Regions from separate parts of the Homo sapiens genome. Here region 1 is linked to region 2. The links come from fine-mapping of genetic effects on plasma protein levels. A gene starts in region 2. The other region holds a variant in brackets. All regions are shown on one strand. Distances are between the middles of the regions.

Region 1 (15,320 bases), 88 kb before region 2:
AAAGTGGAGATCTGGGGCTTCGCACAAAGCCCCTCATGTTCCTCTGACACCTGGCCATGTGCAGGTGTCTGGAAGTTGTCCCTTCCAGAGGCTGCAGCTAGGCAGTTGGTGTGAATCTGAGGAAGGAGCCAGGCCGCTGGCCCTGACCTGCCCACCTGCTGTGGTCTGACCCTTGGATGGGCCACAGAACAAGCCAGGGGGCCCTCTCCTGGGCGCATGGCACCTGTGCAGCCCATTTCTGTCTGCTCAGGAAGCTCCCTGGGCGTGGCAGCCTCGTGCAGCAGGACGCTGTCTACCCTGATCAGACACAGCCACACACATTGGGGCCTGGGGGCTCCAGCTGGCAGGTGAGGGCTCAGGTCTCACGTGTGGTTCATCTTTCTTCTTGGGTGGCTGGAGGGCTGTGTGGCCCCAAGGACCTCCCTTTTCTGAGGATCTGTCCCAGGCCTGGGTCCTAGAGAGCTCTGCCCACAGCTTCCTTTGTGGCTAGGGCTCATCTCTTCCCTCTCTGAGCTATCATTAAAGCAGGTGGCTCGGGCGCTGTTAGGGGGTTTCACAGTCGTGCTCTGGCGTACTTTTGCAGTGGCAAGGAGCGGCTGCTCCATCCGTGGGCAGAGCTGTGGGTAAGAGCCTGGGTGCTGGGTTTAAACACTGACTCCTCCATTACCCAGGCTGGCCAAGTCTGTCACCGCTCTGGTTCCCTTTCCTGCAAAATGGGTCATAACCATCCCTACTGCCTCAGGCTGTGCTGCAGGAAGGACAGAGTGATGCAGCTGGGAGTGGTGCCCGGCATACAGCAGGTGCTCATGAGGTGGTAGCTGTGTGATGACAAGGACAAGGACAGAGGGTTGTGAAGTCGTCACCAGCTGGCGCTTCGGAGGAAGAGAACACGGAGGGCAGGAGCAATCAGGCAGGGATCAGATGGAAGAAAGAGGCAGATGGAAGGCATGGGCTGAGGTCAGGAGGCAGGGAGTCAGTGGCACCAGGGCCAGACTGGGGACAGCCAGAGCAGGAGGCTGCTGCCTGGAGAGAAAGGCCAGGGCTCCACTGGACGCTGATGCTGAACTGGGCACTCCGCTGGGTGCTCAGAGGCAGCAGGATCTGTGCAAGGGGCAGGTAAGTCCAGACATGGATCCTGCTGGGACAAACATCAGGGGCTTCCCTGGCCACCAGGTGTCCCCACTGTCCTGCTCTATGGAACTCTGGGGCTGGCTTTGTTTTTAGAGTAGTAGTGCTAGCAGAGGTAAGGATATAACTACTACTACTACTACTACTATTATTATTATTATTATTATTATTATTTGAGACAGGGTCTCACTCTGTTTCCCAGGCTGGAGTGCAGTGGCATGATCATAGCTCACTGCAGCCTTGACCTCCTGGGCTCAAGCGATCCTCCCACCTCCACCTCCCGAGTAGCTGGGACTACAGGCATGTGCCACCACTCCTGGCTAATTTTTGTATTTTTATAGAGATGGGGTTTTGCTATGCTGCCCAGGCTGGTCTCAAACTGCTCAAGCGATCCTCCTGCCTCAGACTCCTAAAGTCCTGGGATTACAGGTGTGAGCCACCTTGCCCGGCTGTGATTATTTTTAAACAGTGCTCAGTTACTAGGAACTTCTATGTGCCACCTGACAACGATCCCCTGGTGCAGATATTCTCATTCCAATGAACAGGACTCCTGGGATCCTGGCGGAGAGGGAGGAAGCATCTGCCAGAATGTCCCTTCTGGTCTCTGCACATCCCCTTTCCTGCTCCCAGAGACAGGACAGGGGTCGTATCTCCCTGTGCTCATCTCCAGTTCTGGGGCAGGTGACAGAGGGATTGAGAGAAGGCTGTTCCTCGGGTACAGAGGAGTCCACACGCCATGCCTGCTTGCTTTCTAAACGGTCTTGTTTGGTTTGGCTTGTTTATTGGTTAAATCAGTGGTTCCTCTCTGCAATATTATGATGATGTAAACACTGCTTTTTTGTTTGTTTGTTTTGTTTTGTTTTTTTTGAGACAGAGTTTCACTTTGTTGCCCACACTGGAGTACAGTGGCACAGTGTCAGCTCACTGCAACCTCCGCCTCCCGGGTTCAAGCAATTCTCGTGCCTCAGCCTCCCATGTAGCTGGGATTAAATGTGCCCGTCACCACACCCGGCTGATTTTTTTTTGTATTTTAGTAGAGACGGAGTTTCACCATGTTGCCAAGGCTGGTCTCGAACTCCTGAGCTCAGGCAATCCACCCATCTCGGACTTCCAAAGTGCTAGGATTACAGGCGTGAGCCACCATGCTTAGCTGATTATGTAAACATTGTTAATACCTGAGCAAGTAGTGTCCAACTTTTTGTGTTTCTTGGAGTTATTAACAGTTTTTGTCCCAGCTGCTCAGTTTCTTTTGTAACTGTTATGTGTGTGTGTGTAACATTATCTTCATGCCCCAAAACCCATACCCGTTATCAATCACTCCCCATTTCCCACCCTGTCCCCAGACTTAGGCAATCCCAAATCTGATTTCTGCCTCGATGGAGTTTCCTATTCTGGACGTTTAGTATAAATGGAATCACATGATGTCTGGCTTCTTTTTACGGTTTTGTCCGTGTAGTACATGTATCAGTATTTCATTCTTTTTTGCAGCTGAATAATACTCCATTGTATGGATACAATGCACTTTATCCGTTCACCCACTGGTGGACATTTGGTGTTTCTCATTTCTGGTTATTTTGAATAGTGCTGCTGTGAACATCCATATGCATGTTTTTGTGGGGACCTATGTTGTTATTTCTCTTGAGTTTAAACAAGTTGAGCACCCCAAATCCGAAAATCCAAAATGCTCCAAAATCCAACACTTTTTGAGCACTAACATGATGCTCAAATGAAATGCTCACTGGAGTATTCTGGATTTTGATTTTTGGTTTGGGGATGCTCAACAGGTAAGTATAATGCAAACATCCAAAATCAAAAAAAAAATTAAAAATGTGAAACACTGCTGGTCCCAAGCATTTCAGATAAGGAATACTCAGTCTATACACTGGAGTGGAATTACTGAGTCATATGGTAACTCTATTTAACATTTCAACGAACTGTCGGACTATTTTCCAAAGAAGCTGCACCATTTTACATTCCCACCAGTGAGGTATACGGAGGGGTTCCAGCTCCCCTCCATCCTCACCAAGTCTTGTTATTTTTTGTCTTTTTTTATGCCGGTCATCCTAGAAGGTGTGAGGTGGTGTCTCACCGTGGGTTTGATTTGCATCTCCCTGATGACATGATGTGGGGCATCTCTTCATGTGCTTACTGACTATTTGTGTATCTTCTTTGGAGAAATGGTTACTCAGACACTTTGCCCATTTAAAAATAGGGTTGCTTATCTTTTTATTGAGTTGTAGGAGTTCCTTAAATATTCTGGATACAGGTCCTTTGTTACATATATGATTTATGAACATTTTCTTCCATTCAGTGATTGAAACTTCTATTCAGTGGTTGTCTTTTCCCTTTCTTTTTTTCCCCCAGAATCCAGAAGTCTTTACATAGCCTTTTCGCTTTTTTATGGTATGGTTTGTAGCACAAGTTTTAAATTTTAATAACGTCCAATTCATCTCTTTTTTTCCTCTTTTGTCATTTGTGCTCTTGGTGTCATATTTAAGAAGACATTTCCCAACCCAAGACTATAAAGATTTACTTCTAATATTTTCTTCTGAGGCTTTTATAGTTTTAGCTCTTATACTTATGCCTGTAATCCATCTCAAGTTAAATTTTGTGCATGGTGTGAGGTAGGGGTCCAACTGCATTCTTTTGCATGTGGCTATCCAGTTGGCCCAGCAACATTTTTTACAAAGTCTGCTTCCCCCAAGGAATTGTCTTAGCACCCTTGCTGAAAATCAATTGACTCTGAAGAAGAAGGTTTATTTATTTTATTTTATTTTTTTGAGACAGCGTCTCGCTCTTTTGCCCAGGCTGGAGTGCAGTGGTGTGATCTCTGCTCACTGCAAGCTCTGCCTCCTGGGTTCATGCCATTCTCCTGCCTCAGCCTCCCGAGTAGCTGGGACTACAGGTGCCTGCTACCACGCCTGGCTAATTTTTTGTATTTTTTAGTAGAGACAGGGTTTCACCACGTTAGCAAGGATGGTCTCGATCTCCTGACCTTGTGATCCACCCGCCTTGGCCTCCCAAAGTGCTGGGATTACAGGCGTGAGCCACCATGCCTGGCAGAAGAAGGTTTATTTCTCGACTCTCAATTCTAATCCATTGATCTGTAGGTCTATCCTTACTTAGTACCTCACTGTCTTGATTATGTAGCTTTGCAGTAAGTTTGGTATCAAGAAGTGTGAATCCTCCAACTTTGTTTTTCCTTTTCAAAATTGTTTTGGGTATTCTTGGTCCCTTGCATCTCTGTATGAACTTTAGGGTCAGCTATTTAATTTCTTCAAAGAAACTAGCTGAGATTCTGACAGGCATTGTGTTGAAGCTATGGATCAATTTGGGGTGTGTTGTCAGCTTAACAAAAATAAGTCTTTCATTTCATGAACGTGAGATGTCCTTCTATTTATTTAGGTCTTCTTTAATTTCTTTCGAAAGTATTTTCTAGTTTTTAGAGTACAAGTTTTGCAATTCTTTTGTCAAATTTGTTCCTAAGCATATTTATTATTTTTGATGATATTGTAAATGAAATTATTTCTTAACTTCCTTTTCAGATTATTCAATGCTAGAGTATAGAAATATATTAGTTTTTTGGCTGAGCCCAGTGGCTCATGCCTATAATCCCAGCACTTTGGGAAGCTGAGGTGGGTGGATTGCTTGAGGTCAGGAGTTCAAGACCAGCCTGGCCAACATGGTGAAACCCTGTCTCTACTAAAAACACAAAAATTAGTCAGGCATGGTCCCAGCTACTCGGTAGGCTGAGGCAGGAGAATCACTTGAACCCAGGAGGTGCAGGTTGCAGTGAGTTGAGATGGCACCACTGCACTCTAGCCTGGGCGATAGAGCAGGACTCTGTCAGAAAGAAAGAGAGAAAGAGAGAGAGAGAGAGAGAGAGAGAGAGAGAGAGAGCGCTAGTAGTTTTTTAGTGGTTTCCTTAGGATTTTGTATATACAAGACCTTGTTATCTGCAAATAGGAATATTTTTACTTCTTCTTTTTCAATCTGGGTGCCTTTTATTACTTTTGCTGCCTAATTGCTGCCCTGGCTAAAACCTCCAATGTAATGTTGGGTAGAAGGGGTAAGAATGGATATCTTTCTCTAATTCCTGATCTTGGGGGGAAATCAGCCATCCTTCTTCCTTGAAGTATCACATTCCATGTGGGTTTTTGTAGATACCCTTCAGCACTTTGAGGAAGTTCCCTTCTTCCAAGTTTGTTAAGTGTTTGTTGAGGCTTTAAAAAAAAAAATCATTAAAGATGTTGGATTCTGTCAAATGCTTCTCATGCATCTACTGGGATGATTACGTGGTTTTTGTCCTGTACTTTGTTGATGTGGGGTATTCTATTGATTGGTTTTCATACATTATACCAAACTTGCCTTCCTAGGATAAATTCCAGTTGGCCATGGTGTTTTGTTTTGTTTTGTTTTGTGTTTTTGAGACAGAGTGAGACTCTGTTGCCCAGGCTGGAGTGCAGTGGTGTGATCTTGGCTTACTGCAACCTTCGCTTCCTGGGTTCAAGCAAATTCTCCTGCCTCCACTCCTGAGTAGCTGGGATTACAGGCATGTGCCACGACACCCAGCTGATTTTTGTATTTTTAGTAGAGTTGGGGTTTCACCATGTTGCCAAGGCTGGTCTCGAACTCCTGACCTCAAATGACCCTCCCGCCTTGGCCTCCCAAAGTGCTGGGATTACAGGCATGAGCCACCACGTCCAGTCTGGCCATGGTGTATCATCTCTCTTATATATTGCTGGATTCAGTTTGCTATTGTTTTGTTGGGGGTATTTGCATGTGTATATATAACTGTCACTATTTTTCCCCAGTTGTGTCAAGGGATCTGTCAAACATATTGATACTATTGATACTATTTTCTGAATACGCACACACATCAGATAAACCACCTAACGCCCCCAAGTCCCATTTCCCTCCCCTGGAGGACTTCCTGCTGCCTTCAGATCTTCCGCTCCCTTTTGGACTGACCGCTGCATGGTCTAAGCTGTCACTCCAGGGCCTTCTTCACGCCTCCCCGCTGGAGCCATGGCTTTCACTCTTTCTGGGTTTATTTTCTTCCTTTTGTCACAGCGTGTTCTCTGGCTGTTTACTGCAAAGGAGTACGAGAGAAGTATATGTTTTGTGTCCATGAATGTCTGAAAAAGCTTTTATTCTTTGCTTACACTCGATTGATGGCTTGACAGGATCTAGAATTCTGTGTTGAAAATCATCCATTAGACGTTTGAAGAGTTTGCTCCATGTCTTCCAGCCTCCAGCGATGCAGTCCCCTGTTGATGGCCCTCCTGGCCATCCGGTGTTGTGATGTTTCCCACGGCGTGGCCTTGGTGCAGGCCTCTGTCCAGACTCAGGGCTTGGTGGGCACTCTTGGGCCCTTCCATATGAATGCGTGATTTTCAATCGGAGGACTCTTCTTGGGCTGTTGCTTGGACATTTTTCTCGACTCCATTTTTCTCTGTCTTCTCTTTCTGGAAC[C/T]GCTGTAAAATGGATGTTGAACTTTCAAGACGGACCTTCTGATATTCTTATTTTTTTTCCACTCCTGATTTCTGTTTTGTTGTCTTTTTCTTTTAGCCTAATCGCTGGATGATGGCCCCAGCCTTATCTGGCCCTTCCATTGAATTTTAAATTTTGACTATCATATCTCATTTAAAGACCTCTTTCTTCATCTTAGATTCCTTTCTCATAGCACTGTCTGTCACTCTGATACAGTTTGGCTGTGTCCCCACCCAAAGCTCACCTTGAATCGTAATAATCCCCATGTGTCAAGGGTGGGGCCAGGTGGAGATAATTGAATCATGGGGTGGTTTCCCCCATACTGTTCTCATGGTAGGGAATAAGTCTCAGGAGATCTGATGGTTTTATAAAGGGAGTTCCCCTGCACATGCTCTCTCTCTCTTTCCTGCTGCCATGTAAGACATGCCTTTGCTCCTCATTTGCCTTCCACCATGATTGTGAGGCCTCCCCAGCCATGTGGAACTGTGAGTCCATTAAACCTCTTTCCTGTATAAATTACCCAGTCTTGGGTATGTCTTTATTAGCAGCGTGAGAACACACTAATACACCATCTTCTTGTATTCCTGATGTTCTTGTTGTGGTTTGTGGTTATTTATTTATGAGACAGAGTTTCACTCTTGTTGCCCAGGCTGGAGTGCAATGGTGCAATCTTGGCTCACTGCAACCTTCGCCTCCCAGGTTCAAGCCATTCTCCTGTCTCAGACTCCTGAGTAGCTGGGATTACAGCTGCCCACCACCACGCCCGGTTAATTTTTTGTATTTTTAGTAGAGATGGGGTTTCACCATGTTGGCCAGGCTGATTTTGAACTCCTGACCTCAGGTGATTCACCCATGTCGGCCTCCCAAAGTGCTGGGATTACAGGTGTGAGCCACAGTGCCTGGCCTGTGGTTTTGTTTTATTTATTTATTTATTTATTTTGAGACGGAGTCTTGCTCTGTCACCCAGGCTGGAGTGCAGTGGCACGATCTCGGCTCACTGCAAGCACCACGTTCTGGGTTCACGCATTCTCCTGCCTCAGCCTCCCGAATAGCTGGGACTACAGGCGCCCGCCACCACGCCCAGCTAATTTTTTGTATTTTTAGTAGAGACGAGGTTTCACCATATTAGTCAGGATGGTCTTGATTTCCTGACCTCGTGATCTGCCTGCCTTGGCCTCCCAAAGCACTGGGATTACAGGTGTGAGCCACCGTGCCTGGCCTGTGGTTTTGTTTTTAGGAGAGAGTGAGCAGCAGTGTGATTGGAGGCTTGGAGGGGAGGACTGGAGAGCCTCTCAGGAAGGGTGGGCGGCAAGCCTTTCGCTTTTAGAGAGACCCTGGTGTCAACATCTCAAGCCTTCCCTGGGCCTCTCAGTGTCTCACAGAAGAGTCTCCAATCTGCTCCTGGGGTGGGGGGGTGGGGGGATGGCAGTCCACTCTCCCCACTTCTGGAGCCTCTCAGGACCCACCTCTCCAGAGGAAGATCCTTCCATACATGAGCAAGCGCATCACCCCCTGAAGAGGGACCTGGGGTGGCTCTGAAGATTCAAGAGGAGGCAGGAGGGGCACACTGGCTTGCCTTGCTCAGTCTCCCTCTCCTCCAGCCCCAGCTAAGTCTCACCCCTCCTCCATCCACTCTGCGTCCTCCAGGGTTGGTTGGAATCTCCCATCCTCTACTGCTGCCTCTGCCTGTTCTCTCATCTTTGTCGGTTATATGTTTTGCTTCCCTCCCTTCCTCCCTTGCTCTCTTCCTCGATCCATTCCTTCTTCCTTCTTCCCCTTTTGCTGTTATTTTATGGGATTTGGGGAAGGAGAGGCTTGAATGGCAGTGACCCATTCACTGTGTGTAACTTGAGGCCCCGTGTCCACTCTGTCCTCGGGGTCCTACAACGAGAAGGACCATCTCGAGCCCGTGACCCTGGGTGGAGGTGCTGGCCCACCACGGGGCATGGGGAACCAAGTCCCCACCCAGTTCTGGATGATGCCAAGGCCTCTCTCTCTGCCTTCCAGAACATGCCCAATGTCCGTGATCATGATGCCTCTGTCTACCTCCGCCTCCAAGGGGATGCCTTGTCTGTGGGTGGCTATGAGGCCAACCCCATCTTTTGGGAGGAGGTAAGATGCCAGGGCCCTGGGATAATGGGAGGGAGTTGGGGCTGCATCTCAGCATGGAGAGGGCCTCTTTCAGGAAGTCCATCCTCCTGAAGCTCCTCAGAGGCACACCTGAGAAGTGGCCGGTCCCCTGACCCCACCAAGCTCAAAGCCATCTTGCTCTTACCCTGACGGTCCTGGCAGGCAGTCAAATACAGACCCAGGGCAGCTGGAGGGCTTTGCCTCAAAACATCCACAGAGAAGGTCTGCGCAGTGTGGAGTGATGACCTCAGAAGGGCATGAGAGCACACAAGTCCTACGTCCTTCAGCAAATGACACTGCCCTCCCAACCAGCTGCTGCAGCGGCATTTCCCCTGGCCTGGGCTGTTTCCCGGGCAGCTTCTGGGGTTAGGGCAGCCCTGCAGCCCTGTTCTATGTGTATATGCATTTAGTCCACACATGGAACGACTGAGTGGCTACTTTGGGCTAAAAACTGCTTTAATTTCTGGAGAAAGAGGGAAACTAAGATAAAAGTCCCTGACTCTGGGTGCCTATATTTTGGTGGAGAGACATACAATAAACAAACAAATGGCTGGGCACGGTGGCTCACACCTGTAATCCCAGCACTTTGGGAGGCTGAGGTGGGCGGACCACCTGAGGTCAGGAATTTGAGGCCAGCCTGGCCAACATGGTGAAATCCCAACTCTACTAAAAATACAAAAATTAGCCAGGTGTGGTGGCGGGCACCTGTAATCCCAGCTACTTGGGAGGCTGAGGCAGGAGAATCACTTGAACCCGGGAGATGGAGGTGGCAGTGAGCCGAGATCGCACCACTTTACTCCAGCCTGGGTGACAGAGTGAGACTGTTACAAACAAACAAACAAACAAATGAACAAGGAATGAAATTCTGGAAGATGATCGCGCACTGAATAAAATTAGCAGGTTAAGGATCAGCCTAGAGAGACTGGAGCAGAAGGATATCCTTTAGATGGGTGGTCAGGGCAGGGTTTTTCAGGGAGGGGACATCCAAGCAGAGCCCTGCACCGCGACAACAAACCAGCGTGCCAGGTCTGGGTGAAGAACTGCCCCATTGAGGGGTGAAGGCCTTGAGCTCACACAAGCTTGCTCTTCCCAAAGAGCTGCAGGAAGGTCAGGGTGGCGGGCCCAGTGGTAGAGGTAGGCAGGCTGGCACATGCCATACAGGGCTTTGGGGCCATCGTGAGCTGCAGGGGGCCAGAGGAGGCTTGTGAGTAGGGAAGGGGCATGGTGGGATCTAGGGGAGTGGGTGGAGGCCTGGGCTGGGGTGGGGAGGGGGAGCAGACAGACCTTGCTGATGGGTTGGTGGGTGGGGGAGACAAACGGCTGGGACGTGTGGGTGACCACCAGCCCTCTAATGCATCTGATTCAGCAGAGGCTGGCCTGGCAGCCATCACAAGGCAGGTTTGGCATGGGGATGCATGGCCTTCTTGGGGACAACGGAGATGTTCCCCTGCCCTGCCTTGGCAGGTGTCAGACAAGTTTGCCTTCGGCCTCTTTGACCTGGACTGGGAGGTGTTCACCCAGCACATTGAAGGCGCCATCAACAGGGTCCCCGTGCTGGAGAAGACAGGAATCAAGTCCACGGTCTGCGGCCCTGGTGAGTGACAGCCTCGGAGCTGGGGTGGGCGTCCATGGGTCCTTTGGTCTGATGACTGTTAGTAGTGATGCCCCGTGAGACCAGCCTGTGTCACACAGGGGACCCAGGGCTGTCCCCGGTCCCTCTCGCTGCTTGGCTCCAGCAGCCCTGGGTACTAGGTGTGGCCTTTATTCCCCTCTACGGGCGAGAGGCCTGGGCTTCACAAGGGCCATCATCTGCCCCAAGCACGAGGCCAGGGCCTCCTCCTGCCTCAAGGGTGGCTGGTCCTGGCTTCCCCACCTGGGCTTCTTCATCCCTAGACTTGACTTGTCCCTGGAATTCTGTGTTTTCATCTGTAAAATGGGAATAGCGGGCCACATCCCAGCACCCTGTGAGGCTGAGCCAGGAATGGAAGGGCTGAGACCTTCCCTGATGAGAGGCTTATACAGCTGTGAGTCCCAGTTCTGCCTCCAGCCCCAGCCCCCACCGCTCCCAGAGAGCACTGCCCTGGCCAGGACCCCATGCTGCTGGCCTCCCTCCTGTTCTTGGCGGCTTGCACCTGGAGGCCAGCTCAGCGGGGGAAGGTTCTTGTGTCAAGATTCCCCTAACTCTGGCCCTCCTTGCTAGCCCCAGGAGAACTTAGCTGGAAGAGGCTGGAGCAAAAAGGTGGGCTCAGCTCCCAGATGCCCCACGTGGGTCATCCACAGCGCAGCTCAGCCCCACCCCACCCTACTGGCCTGGGGAGCCTGGAAGGCTCTGCCCCAGGGGGCGGGTGTGGGGCTGAGGCTGCTGGCCTGGGGAGCCCGGAAGGCTCTGCCCCAGGGGGCGGGTGTGGGGCTGAGGCTGCTGGCCTGGGCCCTGGCAAAGGTGCACTCTCTGGGAAGCAGGAGGGGCTGCAGCTGACCTTGGCACCCCAGTGTTTATAACCACGGGACTTTGAGCCAGACGTCCCTGAGTTGAGTGTGGGGCAGCCCAGGAGCTACCGGTGACCCCAGAGCACCAGCATTCCTTCATGAGGGCATTCATTCTACATTAAGTGGCACTTCGTCGGTGGTGGAGGCAGGCACGCTCAGGGCCAGCGCCCTCCTTCTGGCAGGGGAGACCCAATGCAAGTCACTGATCACAGCCCGTGGGTGGGTGCTCTGACACGAGGCATGGGGTGACTGGGTGGCCACAGCCTGAGGACACAGACGGGCGGCCAGGAGGAGGGGCAGCCTAGCCCGGCCCTGGAGGGCGAGTCAGCGCTGGGCCTGCCGCGGATACGTGATCTGAGCAGGGGAGCACCAGGTGGGCACAGACAATCCCCCACATTGGGGTTCCAGCAGAATCACATGGTGTTCCCCACTGCTTCCTGGTAGGGGGAGCTCTGGCCCCGCTTCAGGGCTGGGAGAGAGGTTCAGGAAGACACAGTGTTGCCCCCAGGGAAACTTCGTGTCAGAAGCCTGGTGAGTCCCTCTGTGCCTTTAGTGAAGGGCACTGGAATGGGTGCCCTCTGGAGTAGGTGCATCTGTGAGATGGTGACGGAGCACTGACTCGGCAGGGTGGCCTAGGGACCAGAAGCCACAGGGGCGGTGCAGGGCATAGGCCAGGCCCAGCAGCTGTAGAGAGCATTTGAGTAGAGGTGGGCGGCACAAAGCGGGGAGCCCAGGGACTTCCACGGGCCATGCAGGGAGCGGATGAGGGCCCTAAAGACAGGGAAGAGTCCCGACACAGAAGGGCTGTGGCCACCGAGGAGTCCAGCCCCCTCTGTCCTGGCACGCTCAGCATCTGCTCAGCCGTCAGCAGGGGCTACTTGAATGAATTCGACTCCTATGGGAGCCTTTGGAGTGAAGTGCAGCCCCGGGGAGAAGCAGATAGAGCCCCAGGGGCCGGGGCAGCGTGCAGGGTAGGAGCACACAGCCGTGACTCACTGCCCCCACCCCGCAGCTTGCGTGGGTCTGGCAGCGAGAAACACAGGCCCGGAAGAATCCCAGGGGCACAGATAACCCCAGGCGTCTCTCTGTCTCTCTCTATCTTTCTCTTCCTCTCGTTTTAATTAGCCTGGGGAGCCGGTACTCCCCACGAAGCCCTATTTTGGGGAAGATGTGCAGGCAAGGACATCTTGGATCTGGTCTGTCGGCTGGATGGGAGACTGGTGGGGAATCAGCATTTCTCCTTGCCAGGCACGGCCAATGGCCTTTGGCCTCCAGGAAAGAGCAGGGAAGTCCCAGGCCCCCGTGACTTAGGGAGCGCCTGGGAGGGCAGGCAGAGCTCTCATTCCAGGATGGTGGAGCTCACCAAGGTCAGGGTGGGAGCCGCAGGCCTGGCCCCTGGCCATGTTGCCTGGAGGTCCCATGTGTCCTCGGGTTACTCAACCCGCATGAGTCATTTGTGAAACATCCAAGAGACCCTTGTTCCCTGCAGCTGCCCCTCCGCTAGCTCTTGATAGCGCTCCCCGCAGATTCCCTGTGAGGTTGTTCAGAGCTTCTTTCCTGCCCTCCCTGGGCCTAGAAATAGTTCCAGCCCTCCCAAGGTGCTCCCTGGGCCATCCCCAAACCCAGCCCAGGTTACCTCCCCAATCCCCCCTTTTTTAAAGGTCTTGCTGTGTTGCCCAGGCTGCAGAGCAGTGGTGCGATTTTGGCTCCCTGCAGCCTCTACCTCCTGGGCTCAAGCCATCCTCCCTTCTCCGCCTCCTGAGTAGCTGGAACTACAGGCTCGCTCCACCACATCCGGCTAATTTTTTGATTTTTTTGTAGAGATGCCGTCTCGCTATGTTGCTCAGGCTGGTCCTGAGCTCCTGGGCTCCAGACATCCGCCTGCCTTGGCCTCCCAAAGTACTGGGATTACAGGCGTGAGCCACTGCACCCGGCCTCAGCTCACTCTTTCTGCCCCATCGTCACCTTCTCTGGAGCCTTCCTTGTCTCTCACCCAGATGGCTGCTCCGGCCTCTGCCCTCTGCCCTGATAACCCAGGCCCTCCACGTAGGGCCCTGCCCCTCTAGCCTGCCTCCTCCACCCTCCCCTGCAGTGGCCCTGCCACCTTCTGCCCCTCAAGGAGCCCTGCCTCTCCTGGCCAGGCTCTTAGCCCAGGCTCCCCGTGGCTCTCTGCCCCCTCAGCTCCTAGCGTGGGGGCCCTGATTGCTCTCCAGGGAGCGGGACGGCACTTGCTCCTGATCTGCATGCAGAGGATGACCCCCCAGACTTGGAGCCATCCCCGTATCATCGTTCACGAACGAAGTGCCCTGGGGTCCCTCAGACCAGGGCCGGCCGCTTCCTCATCTAGAGTCTAACATGGTGTGGTGCTGGGGTGCCAACAGTAGCAGCTGGCACCTCAGTGACGCGTGGCCCTCAGTTCATCGTATTTTCTTTACGAGACCGTCTGTTTTTTGCTTATTTAAGTATTTGCTCCCTCCCTCCGTCAGCTCCTCGAGGGCTGGGACATGTCCTGCTCAGCGCTGCCTCCCAGGGCCAAGCCCAGGACATGAACGTCTGTAGGCTGGCGAGCGCACAGCTCTGTGGAGGTTCTGCTATCCCAGTTTTATAGACTAGGACGCTAAGCCTTGCTCAGAGAGGCGAAGTGACTCGCCCAATGCCACACAGCTAGGAAGGGGTGAAGCAGGTTTTGAATCCAGGACTGTGGCCACAGAGAGCCAGGGTTCCCCTCCCACCGTGTCCTGGCCTCTGTCTGAGGCTCAGCTGTGGCCGCCGGAGTGGGACATTGGTCTCCTCCCCCGCAGAAGTTGGGAGCCTTTGTTGGCTCAACAGACATTTATCAAGCACCTGCACTTGCTGGGCTCTGACCCTGTGCTGGGCGGGGGGAAGTGGAGTGAGAAAACTGGTCTCTGCCCTCTCAAGGTCCAGTGGGCAGGAGTGACAAGTCTCTGGCAGGGACACAGCAGGACGCTGGTGCACTGGGGGAGCCGCAGCATGGTCTCCAGGGTCAGAGAAGGGCTCCTTGTCGGCAGGACAACGGCCACAAGACAGCGGGACCCCACCAGGCAGAACCCAGCCAGGTCGCCGTCAGCTGGTTCTGGCAGCACACGTGGAGGGGCTCAGAGAGCACGGGCAGGAGCCAGCGGGGAGGCCCCCATGAGGAAGTGGCGCTGAGCAGGGCCTAGAGGAGGGAGGGGGTTGGGTGGAGGGGCCCCTGCAGACCCTGCCTGATCACTGCTCTCTTGGAAGACCTCACCCCAAGAGTATGTGCACTGCAAAAGGGACTCCAGGCCTCTCTCTCCTTCTTTCAGAATCCTTCACGCCCGACCACAAGCCCCTGATGGGGGAGGCACCTGAGCTCCGAGGGTTCTTCCTGGGCTGTGGCTTCAACAGCGCAGGTGAGTCCGGGCAGCAGCCCTCCTGGCCCCCAAGAGGGAGGTCCTGTCATTCCCAGAGCTCTGGGGGAGGCGGGCGCAGGAGCACCGTGGCCCCCGACAGTGGTGGGGACAGGAGAGGCTGGGGAGTCCAGCCCCTTCTGCTTCCCAGAGAGTGCACCTGTGCCAGGGTCCAGTCCAGCAGCAGTCCAATCAGGAGGCGTGCAGCACCCCAGGTGTGAGAGCAGAGCTTGGAGTGTCTGTGCTGTCCGTGGAGATGGGGGCACATGTTTGGACATGGGTGGGGGACCCTGGGGGGCAGACCGCAGCCCTGCGCTTCTCTTCCTGCCAGGAATGATGCTGGGTGGTGGCTGTGGGCAGGAGCTGGCCCACTGGATCATCCATGGGCGCCCGGAGAAGGACATGCATGGCTATGACATCAGGTAAGTGCCCATTGGGACCTAAGGGCAGGGCCCGCCACTCAGGACAGGTGGCGTGGGGTAAACAGCGAGGGCTACTGAGAAAGGAGCCTTGCCTGAAATCCAGGTGGCTTCCTGGAAGGGGCAGCAGTGAGGGAGGAAGGCCACCAGCAGAAGGTGGGCAGTGCTGAGGGGGTGGCTGGGGGGCAGGTCCACGCCCCTTTACAGCTTTGAAGATCTCTTGTCCCAGGGTCCTGCCTGAGCCCCTGGACAGCTCTGGAGTCATCAGTGG
Region 2 (14,822 bases):
AGGGGAAGAGGGCATTCCCCGGCAGAGCTCCGCATTCATTGCCAGCTGATCTGGGGATGCTGGGCCTCAGTCCCTGTGGATCTGAGGGTTCTGCCTGGGGCTGTGGCTTCACTCACACCTTCTATCTCCATTTCTGCCTGGAGACAGTGGAGATGAGCCCCGACAGTGGAGTTGGTTCCTCCTCTGCAGCCAGGAACCAGGGCTGTCACTTGCCAGCAGGTCACAGGTTCTGTTAGCCATGGGCATTCCCGGGCCTGGCGGGCGGGACACTGAGCTTCTTAAGAAGATGCCTGAGGCTCCCAAGGCCTCCTCAAGACTGGGAACAATGCCTCAGACCAATGCTGCCCACATTCATGCAGGCAGGAGAGTTGCGGAGCCTCAGAAAGGGGAGAGTTGGGAACAGGGTGGGACATGAACAGGAAAGGAGAGAGAAACCAGGGTGCCACATCTAAGATGGTGATTGATAGCAGGTGCCCACCCTGCACTGGCACAACCCTGAGAACAAGCACTGCTTTATTACTTTATAAATACATGTAATTTTGGATTTTTTTTTTTTTTTTTTTGAGATAGGGTCTCGCTATGTTGCCTAGGCTGGTCCTGAACTCCTGGCCTCAAGCGGTCCTCCTGCCTTGCCCTCCCAAAGTGCTGGAATTACAGGCATGAGCCACCACACCCAGCCTGAAGCACCACTTTAAACCCTGCAGCCTAGGCATTGTTCCCCTCACCTTAGTCCCAGCCCTGCTTGGAGAAGGTAAACTGAGGCCCAGGGAGGCATTGGACCTGCTGCATTCTCCGAGGATGCTTCCTGGGATCTGGATCAGTGACCTCTGCCCTCCCCGTCTCCGGCCGCTCCCCTTGCACTGGGCCCTAAGGGGCAGGGACACGGTGGCCCGAGGCCAGGTCACATGGAAGACCACCAGGGAGACCCACTGAGAGACAGCGAGGAGCCTTCCCCAACAAGCAGGCTGCCCTTCGTACTCAAGAAGGGCCCTTCTTAGATTCCATATTTGTCTATTTGGCATCTATTAATTGATTGAAGGCTCAAACAGATGGTCAGAGTTGTTTACACCTGTCCTGCCCTCCAACATTCACACGTGTGTGAGAATCATATTCCTAACATTCCGACCCACACCAAGCCCATATCCCTAGCTACCTCCTCCACCTGACTCTCACACCCCAGGCCAATATTGCCCCAACCCTAAAACACCCTAGGGCCAGGAACCAGGCAACTAGAGACCACCCCAGCCACCCAGAGCCCACCAGAATTGTCCAAACGAAGCTGCTTCCCTGCCCTGCCTGGCCTTTCCCATGGAAACCCCAAGAAAGCCTCGGGCCCTTGGCCTTAAGGACTTTGGGTTGTGTTTCTTTTTAATCTTACATTCAGGGTAAAACATCTTTTCTTCATTTCCTTGAGAAAAAAGAAATCTGCAAAAGATACTGCAAAACTTTCCCTAGAGAAAAAAGCCACACAATGCAACCCCGCTGGGGACACCGCTGGTTTGCCGAGAGACTCATTTTAAACAGAGGCAGAAAGTTCGCCTGTGATATTTCAGCTGGAAATCAAGAAGATATTAGTTGAACATATTGCTTAGGGAGGAATAATAAGGCTGACATTTGCTTTCGTAGGAATTTGTTGTGCAAATTAACCTTGCCAGTGCACGGAAAGGCAAAGTCACCTGGCTTCCTCTGGCTTCCCTAGCAGCCGGGAAATGCAGGCAGGGGGGACGCTGCCCCAGAGAGGAGCAAATGCTCCTGCACTCAGGGTGCCTCATGGCAGAGGCTTGCGAAGAACCCCAAACTGTCAGCGATGGGGTTCAGCTGCTCCTCCAGACGGCTGACGGCTCAGAATCAGGGCTGTCCCAGGTCTTTCTTGGCTGGAACCTGAGCCACAGAGTGTCTTTGTGCACAGGAATCTGTGCAGCCCTATGGGTCAGAGCAGGGCCCTTCCCAGGCAGCTCCACTCACCCTACCTGGGTGGCCCTAAGCCTCACTAGCGACACAGGCAAGTGCCTCCTGGCCGAGTCTTGGGAATTGGAGGGGGCAAGCTCAGCTCCAGAAACAGCAGCCACCATCTGCCCTCATGAATTCACAACACCCAAAAAGGCAGAGAGGGACTCTCCGCCCCACCAGCCCATGGTGAGACCAAGATGCAGAGCTGGAGCCGGCCGCTCCGCACAGACACAGCTCCCCCGCTCCAGCTCGGCACTCCCAGATAAAGCAGGCACCTCCTGACTTCAGAAATAAAACTTTTTTGTCACTCCTTTGTGTGTTTCTGTGGAGAGAGTTGGGTTTCATCCACAAAGAAGCCCTGGTGGCCAGTCCCATGTGGAAAGGAAGGCTGGAGCAGGACCCATTGTAGGCGGTGGGCTCGCCCACTTCGGGGACCCCCTGCAGCTTGTGGAAGGGCCTAAAGTCCCCTCCAGTTTGAAGGGAAACTTTTCCCCTTTCTCCACCCTGTGAAACAAGAGTGGAGGTAAATTTGGACGGAAAGGAGTCAAGAGCCCATCCTAACAGTTTTGGCTGAGCCCTGTGGGGCTTGTTCAACACCTATGGGTAGGGGCAGGGTGTCTGCACCTGCTCAGTTGGTCCACGGGTACAAGCACAGTAGGTCAGGCTGGATCCCATGGGTGTGCAGGCCTCATGCTGTGCCCAGCCACGCGCCACCACCTGGCCCACATCAGTGGGCATGTGTGCTCTGGGGACGTGGTACTAGGCATTGTTTACAGGGCCGAGGGTCGTGGGGTCTGTGCTCATGCGCGTGTGGGGTGTGGAGCGGCACGAGTGTGTGTGGTGTGTGCGTCCTCTGTGTATAGTTCCATTCCTTGGGATTACTGGGTCCCATGATTTGGGGCGGGCAGTCAAGGACCATGGAAAGCATGTCTTTCCTATTTTGTCCTCAAACTGAGATCCCCATGATGCCCAAGCTCGGGGTGCAGACTTGGCTCAGAGCAGAGTCAACTCAAACACTGACAGGTGACAGAAGAACTTTCTGGGTTAAGGAGGGTGAGTGCAGAAAGACGGCCAGATGGGGTGCCGGGTCAGGAAGGGTTTGGAGAGCTGGCAGGGAGGAGAGACTCACCGCAAAATAGGCAGTGTCCCCATCGGTCCAGAGCACCACGAGATCTGCGTTCTCAAGCTCGCCACGGTCGGACATCCCAAACAGGACGCCAGCCTTGAGCCTCCGCACCAGGAGCTGGAAATGGATGGCCTCCTGGGTGTAGCTGACATTCCATGAGAGCTCCAGGGACCCCTCCGGGTCCAGGGGGATGTGATAGGGGAGGGGGCTCTCACGGGGAGCCGAGCCCTGCAGTGCGGCCACCAGGATGACCAGGAAGATGGCCACTGCTGTGCTGTACATGAAGGCTGCCTCCCGCATGCTGGGGCCGGGCAGGCTGGCCCAGCGACTGAGGGCGGGCATGGCTGGGGTGAGCTCTCTGGTCCCACCTGGCCATTTATGCCCTGGTCCTGAATGGGGTGGGTCCAGGCAGCACGGGTAATCACATTTGTCTAGCGGGGAATCCAATTTTCCCTCCCACAAGCTTGCGCCCCAGGCCAAGCACTCAGCCTGCTGCCCTCCTCTAATTGGCACTAATGACACATGGACGTCATCAGTGGGAGTTGAAGTAGACAGGCGGATGCTGTCCCTTCTGAGATGGCTCTGAAGAGCTGTCCCAAAAGCAGATGCACCCTGCAGCCAAGAGGCCTTTCAGACACCCTCTGGCCAGGCACCAGCTGACTGCCTCACAGGCTGTCTGGCCCAGTCCCCAGTGGGATGGGGTCTGCGTCGCCTCTACCCACGGATGAGCAGACTGAGGTCCGAGGAGCTGCTCCAGGCTGACCAGTGAAGGATAGGCCCGTAGCCACTGCAGGCCTGGCCTAGCGAGCAGAGCCGTTTGTACAATACTAGCAGGTGGGCCCATTTCAAACCAAAAATAAGACAATCTCCAAATAGTCCCTGTGTTTAGACACTCTCTCCACGGCCTGCTCTTCCCACTTTTGTCTCCTCTCAATTTTTCCACAGCCTCCAGCTGGTACCACTGCTGCTCCAGAAGGCGCGAGAGCATCATAGGGAGTGGGGGACATGGGCGTGGGGTGCATTGCTGGGGACAGACGGAGCTGGAGCTGCACAGGGGATAGGCAGGCTGCAGGGTGCACTGCTGGGGGTGACAGCCTTTAAGGAAAAGAGGGTGAGTGACAGGCCTGCTCCCCTGTCTCTGAAGCTCCCAAACCCACAGCTTCCTCTTGCCCAGAGCAGATCTGGCCTGAATTTGAAGCCTCTCAGGGCAGCTGGCCGCAGCCCTGCTTCTCCCACACCTGCCACAGGACCTTTGCCATCATCCACCCGTGGGCCCGAGGGTCAGTCTCACCACGGCACCTCTCCCTCCTGTCCTCTCCCACAAGTAGACTGAGGGCAGCTGCCTTCAGGACATTCTGCTTGATCCCTCCAGCTCCACCCCCCAGGCTGGGTTGACAGATCTCTCCAGCTGGACTAGAAGCTGTCCCTCCTCCCCAGCCTCCTCCCTCCCTTCCTTCCTTTTCCCTCCTGTTTCTCGTCTCTCTGGAGAAACCCAGAATCTAGCCTTAGGGGCACATTCATGTCATAGGCTGACAGCAACATTTAGGTCCTTAAATACCCATGACAGCAGGTCTGGAGGCTGCTTCAGCTCTGAGCTCTACGCTGTAGAAAGGAATGACTGTGTCTTTGCACGAACGTGAAATTTGGAGAAAGTGCCAGCCTTCCCCTGGCCCTCGCAGGCAGTGCTCTCTGCCCCACAGTGGCCAGGCCATCCTGCAAAGCCAAGCTCAGGCCATGAGCCCCTCCCCACTGATTGCACCCAGAGGGGCACCGTTCGCCCCCACCCACAGCCCAGGCAGGTGAGGTCCAAGTGCATAATCACCTGTGCAATAGAGTGTGGCATTGGTGTGAAATTGTCTCCCAGGCCAGGGGAAAGACACTCTTGGGAGTTCTCTGGTGAGCCTTGGGAAGGGTCTCAGCCTCCGAAGGCCTGGCTTTCCCATCAGGACATGCCACCTCCGTCGCCTGAGAGCACCTCACCTTCATGCCTCAGATTAGTTCCAAAACCTCCTCACCTGTGCCTTGTAAGCAGGTGTCTGCTGCATCCCGGACATTCACTCTCGGGACTGGGGAGCGGCCACAGCGAGCCGGTGATACGAAGAGCCTCCGGGGTGGGCAGGCACTGGTGTTCCCAGCACGGGATAACAAAAGCCAGCAGAGGCAGAGGTGAGGGTCACGGGCTCCACAGCACACCCAGCTCAGGGGTGAGCCCTCCCAGCAGCCTGGTGGCCACCCAGGTGGCTCCAGCTAGACAACAGGCTAAACGAGCACCAGCTGGGGCCCGCGTTGTGGGAAGGGGGGCACCTCTCTCCCCTCTGGGGTATTGAGGCCCCAGGCACCCCTCCTGCTCCTCCGGGGTCAGAGCTCTGGGGTCATATCCTGCTCCGCCCTCCTGAATGCGCAGCTGGCGTCCTCAGAGAAGCGCTTTCCAACCCAGCGCCTCCTCCCCATCTACAGACACAGGAAGTTGGATGACAAGGACAATTGATCCCTCCAGCTTCCTTCAACCCAGCGGTTCTGTGGAGCGAGAGGCAGTGAAGAGCCCCTGATGCTACCAGCCCTTGGACGGCTCAACACACCTCCAGGCCTCGCTCCTCTCCCGGATACGCCAAAGACCAACAGCTGCTGGGAGCTCTAAGGAGGGACGGCAGGTGCGGTCTCGTGCTCAGCAGTGTTATGCACACATGTTTATTTTTAACAGGAATCAAAGACATTTTCTTTATCCAACTCAAAACTGGCTTTCCTCTAGCATTTGACAGAAATGATTCAGCTGATTCCAAAATACTGATAACTAAGTCCTAGGGAGGGACAGGAGACACAAGTCAGGCCGCACCAGGGCTTCCCCTGCCCTGCCTCCATCCTGGCCAGCCTTGGGTGGCTGGGTGTGCGATCATCCCTGTCTCAGACACAGGAGAGTCAGCCTCGGAGAGGCGAGACAATGCGCCTGAGCTCACAGGGTGGGCCAGTGCCTGGGGCAAGCACCCCAAAGAGGGTGCCCTGAGCTGGAGGGGGCTGCACACCTTGTCAGCCAAGGTCAGAAAAATTCCACTGGAGTCAAGAGGAAGGGACGCTCAAATGAAAAATGCAACCGCAGAGAAAATCTGCGGAGACTGGGGCCGGGCGGGAGGGAGCGAATCCAATCGGATGGCCCCGTGGCTGCGCCCTTCCTTGCATTAATGGATTTTAAAAGGGAGCAATCCGACCCCAGGGTAAGGAAGCAACAGTCAGCTCTCCTCCTGCCCTCACCCTCCTCAGAGGTGACACCTGCTTGCCAGGTGCTCTCTTGGCCACATGCCTCCCTGTGGTGCCCCGCGGGGGGCTTTCCTCCCTGCTCCCACCCCTGCTGCCTCTGCTCCAGTGTCTGGGTGCACGTTGCCCTCCAGAGGTGGCGGTGGGGGTGGGGATGGGAATGGGGGTGGGAGTGGGGTTGGGGGTGGGGTAGGCCGGGGAGGTGCAGGGTGTCACGGCCACGGTGTCAGGAAATAAGCCCCATTCCTGCTGCTCAGCGCCTGGCTTCCCTCCAAGGCGCATCGACGGCTGACCTTGTTTAGAACCAATTTCAGCTTTTTAATAAGCCCTTTGCTTTCCTGAATCTCTCTGATGCCATCAGCCTTTGCAGGCTGTAATTCCCCATCGCCTCTGCCACATGAGGCTGGCTTCTGCTGACGTCCTAACCTCAGGCAGTGACAACCCCAAGTGGAGCGACGGTGGTGCAGACTGGAGCTGGGTGAGTGAACAGGCCAGGCCACTCCCCAGTGACAACGGGGCCTGGCCACAGGACAGCACTGTCCCTCGCCTGTGGCTCAGGCTCTTAGGGACCTCCTCTTGGCAGGAAAAATTCAACTATCAGTCTGATGGCAGTGCCTAGACCTGACTTGTGATGGGATGGATTGGGAGCTGCTGGGAGACGGTGACTCTGTCCATCACAGAGCCCACTCCAGGGTGGCACAGTCCCCTTGGGGAACTTGGGGCAGCTGGCCTATGTCCCTCCTCGTCCTGAGCATAGGGGCTGCGGTATGAAAGTTAAGAGGCACATTCTGGGCTGGGCACAGTGACTCATACCTCTATAATCCCAGGACTTTAGGAGGCAAAGACGGGAGGATTGCTTGAACCCAGGAGTTCGAGACCAGCCTGGGGAACATAGCATGACCCAGTCTCTACCAAAATAAAAATAAAAACAAATTAGCCAGGCATAGTGGCACAAGACTGTAGTCCCAGCTACTCGGGAGGCTGAGGCGGGAGGATCGCTTGAGCCCAGGAGTTTGAGGCTGCAATGAGCCCTGACTACACCACTGCACTCCAGCCTGAATGACAGCGAACAACCCTGTCTCAAAACAAACAAACAAAAAGCATATCCTGCCTGAGGAGGCAGCGGTGGCACCATGCCTCTGCCTCTGCTCATAAGCGTAGGTGGCCGTGAGAGTTTGAATGCTTGGGATATCCCATGGCCTGAGGTGTCCAGGGCCTGGGGCACTGAGTAGGGTGGCTACAGTGGGATCAGCATGAGGACTGGGCCCAGGGCAGGTCACAGAGGTGCCCAGAGCACCACTGAAAGCTTTCCTCAGCTACTGGATTAGAGGCACCCTCTGGCCCTGAAGCTCTGTGCCAAAAGCAAGGGGCCACTGATCCCAGAAGGGGTCGGTATCGTGAGCCCCAGTGACACTCCCCTGGAAGCTCCCAGGGAAGCAGAACCCAGGAGTCTGTGGCTGGCTCCAGGGCTGGGGCTGCCAGGCCTGCCAGGCCACTCCTGTGTGACCCCAAGCAGCCCCACTGTGAGCAAGTCCTCCACTGTCACTGGCAGGCGGCTGGCCTGGGCAGGACACAGCCTCCCCCGCCTCCATCTCTCCTCCATACACAGGGGTCAGCGAGATGGGGAGGTGGACTCTCACACCTGCGTGGCCTGCACCCCCAGCTCTGGGCTCATGCTCACATACTCAGTTTTACACACACACACACACACACACACCCCTCCAATAATTTGGCCTCAATCTTGGGGCTGAGGCCTGCTGGGCCCTGAGGAATCTTACAGGGAAACCCTTTCTGGGTCCTGCTTCTCCTTTTCTCCATAAGGATGCGTGACTGCTCCTCTCTCTTGAGCAGCTCATGGGGGGAGGTGCATGTGCCTGATTTTTGCATTTTCAGCTTTTCTGAAGGGACCACACTGCCAGGATGGTGGTGGGTCCTGAGGCAGTAGCTCCAGACCACACCCAAGCCACAGCGTAACTGTGGGCACCAGATGGAAAGAGAGGCCCTGAAACCTGCCGGCCATGTGACCCACCCGGACAGTCCCCACAGCCCTGAGCCTTCTTTCCTCATCTGTGAAATGGCCATCTTGCTCAGGACCGGCACTGGCGCTGACTTCTGGCTACAGAGGCTGGGCCCTGCGTGGCCTGCACCAGCACTCAGGGCTGCTGGTCTTGCCCCCCGCTGGCTCCTGCCAGCCATGACCCTCTTCCTGAGGCTGTAGTTCATCTGTCAGTAAGCTTGGTCACCTCAGAGATCCACCAGGTTGACCTACCATTGACCCAGAATGGGGCCGATGCAGTGAGGGCTAGCGAGACAGCCCCGGGCTGCCCTCACCCGCATCCATCTCGGGGGCTGCTGCACCCACTGACATCACAGGGTCCAACAGGCAGGGCTCTGGCCCAGGAGGGTCTCGGAGAACATGAGAATCCGCCTCCCTCCCTGGAATCTCTCTGAGCTTCTGGCGTGTGGTGTGACAGACAGAGGGATGTCCCCCAATGGCCACGTCCAGATCCCTGCAAGTCGGGTAGGCTACCTGGGGAAGGGACATTCAGTGTGATTAGATTAAGGACCCGGAGGTGGGAGGTGGTCTTGGATTGGCTGGGTGGACCCCATGTCATCACAAAGGTCCTACGAGAGAGAGAAGGAGATGCATTGATGGGGTCCAAGGAGAGGAGGCTGCTTCCAAGACGGAGCAGGGGCCATGAGCCAAGGGATGTGGAGGCCTCTGGTAGCTGGAAAAGGTGGGAACAGATTCCCCTCCCAGAGCCCCCAAAAGGAGCCAGCTCTGCAGACACCTTGATTTTAGAGCTTCTGACCTCCAGAACTGTAAAAAAAAAAAATCGTGTTGTTTTAAGCCTCAGAGTTTTTGGTCATTTGTTACAGTGGCCACAGGAAATACAAGCGCCCTCCTCTCCTAGTGTCTGCTGGCACCGTCACACTCTGGTGGGACCCCCAAGTGCAGTCGGAGACTGTGTTCCCTTCTTTTTGTCCTGTTATGGTTTTGGTTCTCCCAAAAGCAGACGCTGAGGCAAGGGTCTGGATGTGAGCAGGCTGTGTGGAAGGAGAGCTCAGAGTGTGCGGAGACGGGTGGGCAGGGGAGTGGGAACACTCACGAACCGTACTTTCATAATCAGTTTCCTCCATGGGCAGTAGGGACTCAGTTCCAAGGGGACCCTGGAGAGACTGTGGAATGCACCCCAAAACTGTCACATCAAGGGTGAAGAAGCCGGGGCCCTCACCTTCCCACACCCATCCCTCACTGGCAGAAGGACGCTCCTGGGGTATCAGAGCCCAGCATGGGGGCTGCCGGCTGGTGGGCCAAGTCCACTCACACAGCCAAGCCCACCCCAGGGTGGGAGGGGGGGGCAGAGATGCAGGAAGTTGTGGGGTACCAGTTGCCTTGGGCAGGCCCAGGAGATGGGGGTTGTGGTGAGAATTGAGGGTCAATGCCCTTTGCACCATGCCATGTGCAGTGGGAGCCCTGTGTGGGACAGCTGTCACCAGGTTGTGGTCTGGGCTCCCGAGTCCTGAGATGCCCTCTGAGTCCACAGGCTCGTAGGAGCCGTGTCTGCAGCCCACCTGCCTCTTCCCTAGGCGAGCATGCAGGCACTGGGCGTTCTCGTGAGTGAGGGCACCCAACCCTTCCAAGTCACATGGAGGCCCTGACTGTCACCATTTCACAACTTAGGATGCCGAGGCCTAGAGACAAGTGGCACTGGCCAGGGCTCCGTGGTCATGGGTGGTGGCTGCAGAGTGGTAGGCCTGGAAGAGCGTGGCGTCTGGCGTCCATGGAGTCTGGAGAGGAAGGCTGGCCTGGGCCTCCCGGGCGGTTCCATGCAGGCTCTGCTGACTCTCAAGATGGGGGCTATGGCAGCCTCAGAGTGGGCGGGCAGGGTTCGAGTGAGCTGCCTGGCAAAGGCTACAATGCCAGCGACCAGCCCTCAGACCCCCGCTCAGGGCTTATGGGCCACTTCACCACCAACCCCTGGAGCTCGCGGCTGCCACACCCCACTGGACACAGACCTATGTGGCTGAGACCGGCGCCACCCAGCCCAGGACCCCCGGACCTGCCCTGACTCCCTGGGCCTTGGCTGAGAACAGGGGACTTGGGCCCCAAGGTCTGAGTGGTCAGTCAGCCCTCATCCCACCCCCCATGCCCATTTCAGGGCCAGGTGTTCTTGGAAACCTGATCCCAGAGATGCTGAAGGGCAGAGCCTCGCAGGCTCAGCAGGGCTTCCACTGGCCTCAGCGCCCAGGGCCGAGGGGGCATCTGTGGTCCTACCCGGGGGCAAGCAATGTGGAGGCTGAGGCTCAGGAGTGCTGTCCCTTGACATTTAGGTGAGTTTCACTGGGAGGGACATGGTCCTTATCCCAGAGAAGTAATCAAGACAAAGGCAGAAAGAGGCAGGTGCATGTTCCTCAACCTCTGTACCTTGTTTCCTCAGCTTATGGGGACAGTGACAGAATTACACTCGCATTTCCTCAGGCTGGGGGCTCCCCGAGTCAGTGCAGGCAGAGGCTGGACCATCTGTGCTTAGTGAGGGCTCCCTCCACGGTGGCGAGCTCTATCATTATAAACATCCAGACAAGCCTGAAAAACACGGCGCAGAATCACTCCCTCAAATACGACTACCATTAACAGCTCAATATGTCGTCTGTCAGAACAGCTTTTCATTCTCTGAAATTTTTAAAATTGTTTATTATTGATTTGTCACATCATGTAAAATGTCCCGCCTTAACCACTGTAAGCGTGCAGTTCAATGGCTTTCAGTGCATATTCCTATTACCGTGCAACCATCACCACCATCTGTCTTCAGAACGCTTCATCTTGCAAAACTGAAGTTCTGTGCCCATGAAACAACAGCTCCCTATTCCCCCTCCCCCAGCCCTGGGCACCTACCATTCTACTTTCTGTCTCCATGATTTTGATGACTCTAAGACCACATAGACATAGAGCCATACAGGATTTATCCTTTGTGTCTGGTCTATTTCACTGAGCATACTATCCTCAAGGTGAATCCAGGTTGTAACATGTGTCAGAGCTTCCTTGCCTTTTAAGGCTGGAGAAGAGTCTATTGTATGAATGATCACACTAGATGTATCCATCATCAGTAGATGGACAGTTGGGTTGCTTCATCTTTTAGCTGTTGTGAATCATGCTGCTGGGTGTGCAAATACCTCTTTGAATCCTTGTTGTGAATTCCTTTGAGTGTGTACCCAGAAATGGCATTGATGCATCCTGTGATAATTCTACTTTTAATTTTTGAGGAGCCATCACTGTTTGTTAAATGGCCTGCTGTACACACTGTCCTGCCACTGGTGTTTTCCACGTGCATGTTGGATATATGTTGAGTATACACGCTCAGTGCTGCCTCCGCCTTTGACAGCTCTCAAGTATCCCACTGCAGGCATGGTCTCTGATTGATTTAGCCAACTCCCTGTTGATAAATATGTGGGTCGTTTGTTTCTTAAACTATGAGTGACAGCGGTGCAACTCTTGCCTTTGTCTGCCGGCCCTCATACACTTGTACCCACGGCTCTATAGCATCAGTCCTCAGAGCCCGGGCTGTGGAGCCAAGGACTTTGGGCTCCCTAATTGAAATCAACCCACAGGTTCAAAAGGCTTTGGTCAAGGGGGATGCTCAGACGCTGGCTGTTATGCCACCAGCCAAAGGCACAACTGCCTCCATGGAACAAATAGTTTCTAACAGGTAAGTAGGTTTAAACCCTGTTGATGGGCCAAATTAGCTATTGGACCAGGCAGCCTCCCTCCAGCTACAATCAAATGCATCACATACATAAACACAAATTCAATCAAGCCTAAGCCTTGCCATCTGCTTTTCAAAGATGAGACTTTGGAAACAAGCAGGTCTCTGTGCCTGGGGGCTTCTGACATTCACAAAGTAAGAAGCAGGCAACGATCTGCACACCCTGATCCAATTTCCCCTCTGCTGATCAAGTTATGGAGAGACTTGGCCCCATAAGGCCCTGGGGAAAGGGCGAATTAAAATGACCAGGACAGAGATGGTCTGTGTCACGTAGGAGGTGAGGAGGTAGCATGAGCTACAGTGCTGATGAGGATATCTTTCTGGGTGGCACTGGTCAATACCTGGAGCAACAGGATGTCTTGGAAGTGCTGGGATTGCCAAAGGCCTGTTTGGTCCCAGGAGAACAGGTCTGGGTTTGAAGTGTCTCAGCATGGTGGGTTGGCCAAGGCCACTGAAATGGTTTGGATCTGTGTTCCTGCCCAAATCTCATGTTGAATTGTAATTCTCACTGTTGGAGGAGGGACTGGTGGAAGGTAATTGAATCACGGGGGCAGGTCTTTCCTACGCTGTTCTCATGATGATGAATAGGTCTCACGAGATCTGACGGTTTTATAAAAGGGAGTTCCCCTGCACATGCTCTCTTGCCTGCCGCCATGTAAGATGTGACTTTGCTTCTCCTTTGCCTTCCGCCATGATTGTGAGGCCTCCCAGCCACGTGGAACTGTGAATCCATCAAACCTCTTTTTTTTTAAATAAACTACCCAGTCTCAGGTATGTCTTTATTAGCAGCGTGAGAACAGACTAACACACTGTCCTCGTGATAGTGAGTGAGTTCTCATAACATCTGGTTGTTTAAAAGCATGTAGCACTTCCCTCCTCTCTCTCTCCTGCCACCCTGTGAAGATATGCTTGCCTCCCCTTTACCTTCCACCAAGATTGTAATCTTCCTGAGGCCTTCTCAACCATGCTTTCTTTACAGCCTATGGAACTGTGAGTCAATTAAACCTCTTTTCTTTATACATTACCCAGTATCAGGTAGTTCTTTATAGCGGTGTTAGAATGAACTAATACAAAAAATTGGTACCAAAGAAGTGGGGCATTGCCATAAAGATATCTAAAAATGTGGAAGTTACTTTGGAACTGGGTAATGGGCAAGAGGTTGGAACAGCTTGGAGGGCTCAGAAGAAGGCAGGAAAATGAGGGAAGGTTTGGAACTTCCTAGAGAATTGTTGAATGGTTTTGACCAAAATACTGATAGTGATGTGGACAGAGATGGCCGGGCTGATGAGGTCTCAGATGGAGATGAGGAACTTATTGGGAACTAGAGTAAAGGTCACTCTCACTATGCTTTAGCAAAGAGACTGGTGGCATTGTGCCCCTGCTCTAGAGATCTGTTGAACTTTAAACTTGAGAGAGATGATTTAGTGTATCTAGTGGAAGAAATCTCTAAGCAGCAAAGCATCCAAGACATAACCTGGCTGCTTCTAACAGCATATACTCATATGTGTTCACAAAGAGATGGTCTGAAATTGGAACTTATATTTAAAAGGGAAGCACAGCATAAAAGTTTGGGAAATTTGCAGCCTAACCATGTGGTAGAAAAGAAAAACCCATTTTCTGGGGAAGAATTCAAAGTTGCAGAAATTTGCATAGGTAAAGAGGAGGCAAATGTTAATAGCCAAGACTATGGGGAAGATGCCTCCAGGGCATTACAGAAACCTTTGAGGCAGCCCCTCCCATCACAGGCCTGGAAGCCTAGGAGGGAAACATAATTTAGTGGGCCAGGCCCAGGGCCCTGCTGCTCTGTGCAGCCTCTGGACGTGGTGCCCTGCATCCTCGCTGCTCCAGTTCCAGCTGTGGCTAAAAGGGACTGAGGTACAACTTGGCCATTGCTTCAGAGGGTGCAAGCCCCAAGCCTTGGTGGCTTCCATGTGGTGTTGAGACTATGGGTGCAAAGAAGGCAGGAGTTGAGGCTTAGGAACCTTTGCCTAGATTTCAGAGGATGTATGGAAATATCTGGATGTCCAGGAAGAAGTCTGCTGCAAAAGCAGAGCCCTCATGGAGACCCTCTCCTAGGGCAGTGCAGAGGGGAATTGTGGGTTTGGAGCCCCCACACAGACTCCCCACAGGGGCACTGCCTACTGGAGCTGTGAGAAGGGGGCCATCATCCTCCAGACCCCAGAATGGTAGATCCACTGACAGCCTGCACCATGCACCTGGAAAAGCTGCAGGCACTCAATGCCATCCTGTGAAAGCAGCTGTGGGGGCTTTGCCCTGCAGAATCACAGGGATGGAGGTCCATTCCAGGTTCTTATAAATGGTCACCTCTTGTGGAATTCCTAGTGCCAATCTCTTTGTCTAGTCTGGTTGATGTTGTCACCCCTGTGGCAGAAATCATCTGTTGCCATTAACAGTACATCAATATGGTATAGGAGGGAGTCTATTGACTGATTGATTGATTGAAATATTCCAAAGCCTTGGGAGTGCACCCCTTGCATCAGTGTTGTTTGGATGTGAGACATGGAGTCAAAGGAGATTATTTTGGAGCTTTAAGATTTAATGACTGCCACGCTGGGTTTTGGACTTGTATGGGGCCTATAGCCCCTTTGTTTTGGTCAATTTCTCCCTTTTGGAATGGGAGCATTTGCCCAATGCCTGTACCCCCATTGTATCATGGAAGTAGCTAGCTTGTTTTTTATTTTACAGGCTCATAGGCAGAGGGACTTGACGTG

Direction of the effects. Alleles are on the strand shown, and positions count from the first base shown. The strength of an association depends on the size of the effect and on how common the allele is.
With allele C in place of T in region 1, the plasma level of the protein whose gene starts at base 3,427 in region 2 is lower (strong association).

Evidence for each region. PIP is the chance, under the fine-mapping model, that this variant and not a neighbour inherited with it causes the effect. The UK Biobank Pharma Proteomics Project read protein levels with antibody pairs (Olink). The fine-mapping took linkage between variants from a reference panel, not from the people measured, so its PIPs are less certain.
Region 1: its variant is fine-mapped to the plasma level of the DBH protein (UK Biobank, PIP above 0.99).

The regions. Positions count from the first base shown.
Region 1 is chr9:133,712,351-133,727,670 of GRCh38, reverse strand. SARDH (sarcosine dehydrogenase) reads left to right here. Exons shown (of 21, transcript NM_001134707.2): 7 at 8,629-8,733; 8 at 10,216-10,345; 9 at 14,547-14,633; 10 at 14,962-15,052. Among named protein-coding and RNA genes, the nearest start is that of SARDH, 18 kb to the left of the region's middle. RefSeq lists enhancers at 1-230, 10,663-11,364, 11,365-12,068. The variant C/T (reference allele first, on the strand shown) is at 6,604.
Region 2 is chr9:133,624,968-133,639,789 of GRCh38, reverse strand. DBH (dopamine beta-hydroxylase) reads right to left here and starts at 3,427. Exons shown (of 12, transcript NM_000787.4): 1 at 3,080-3,427. The coding sequence starts at 3,418. RefSeq lists an enhancer at 1,427-2,162.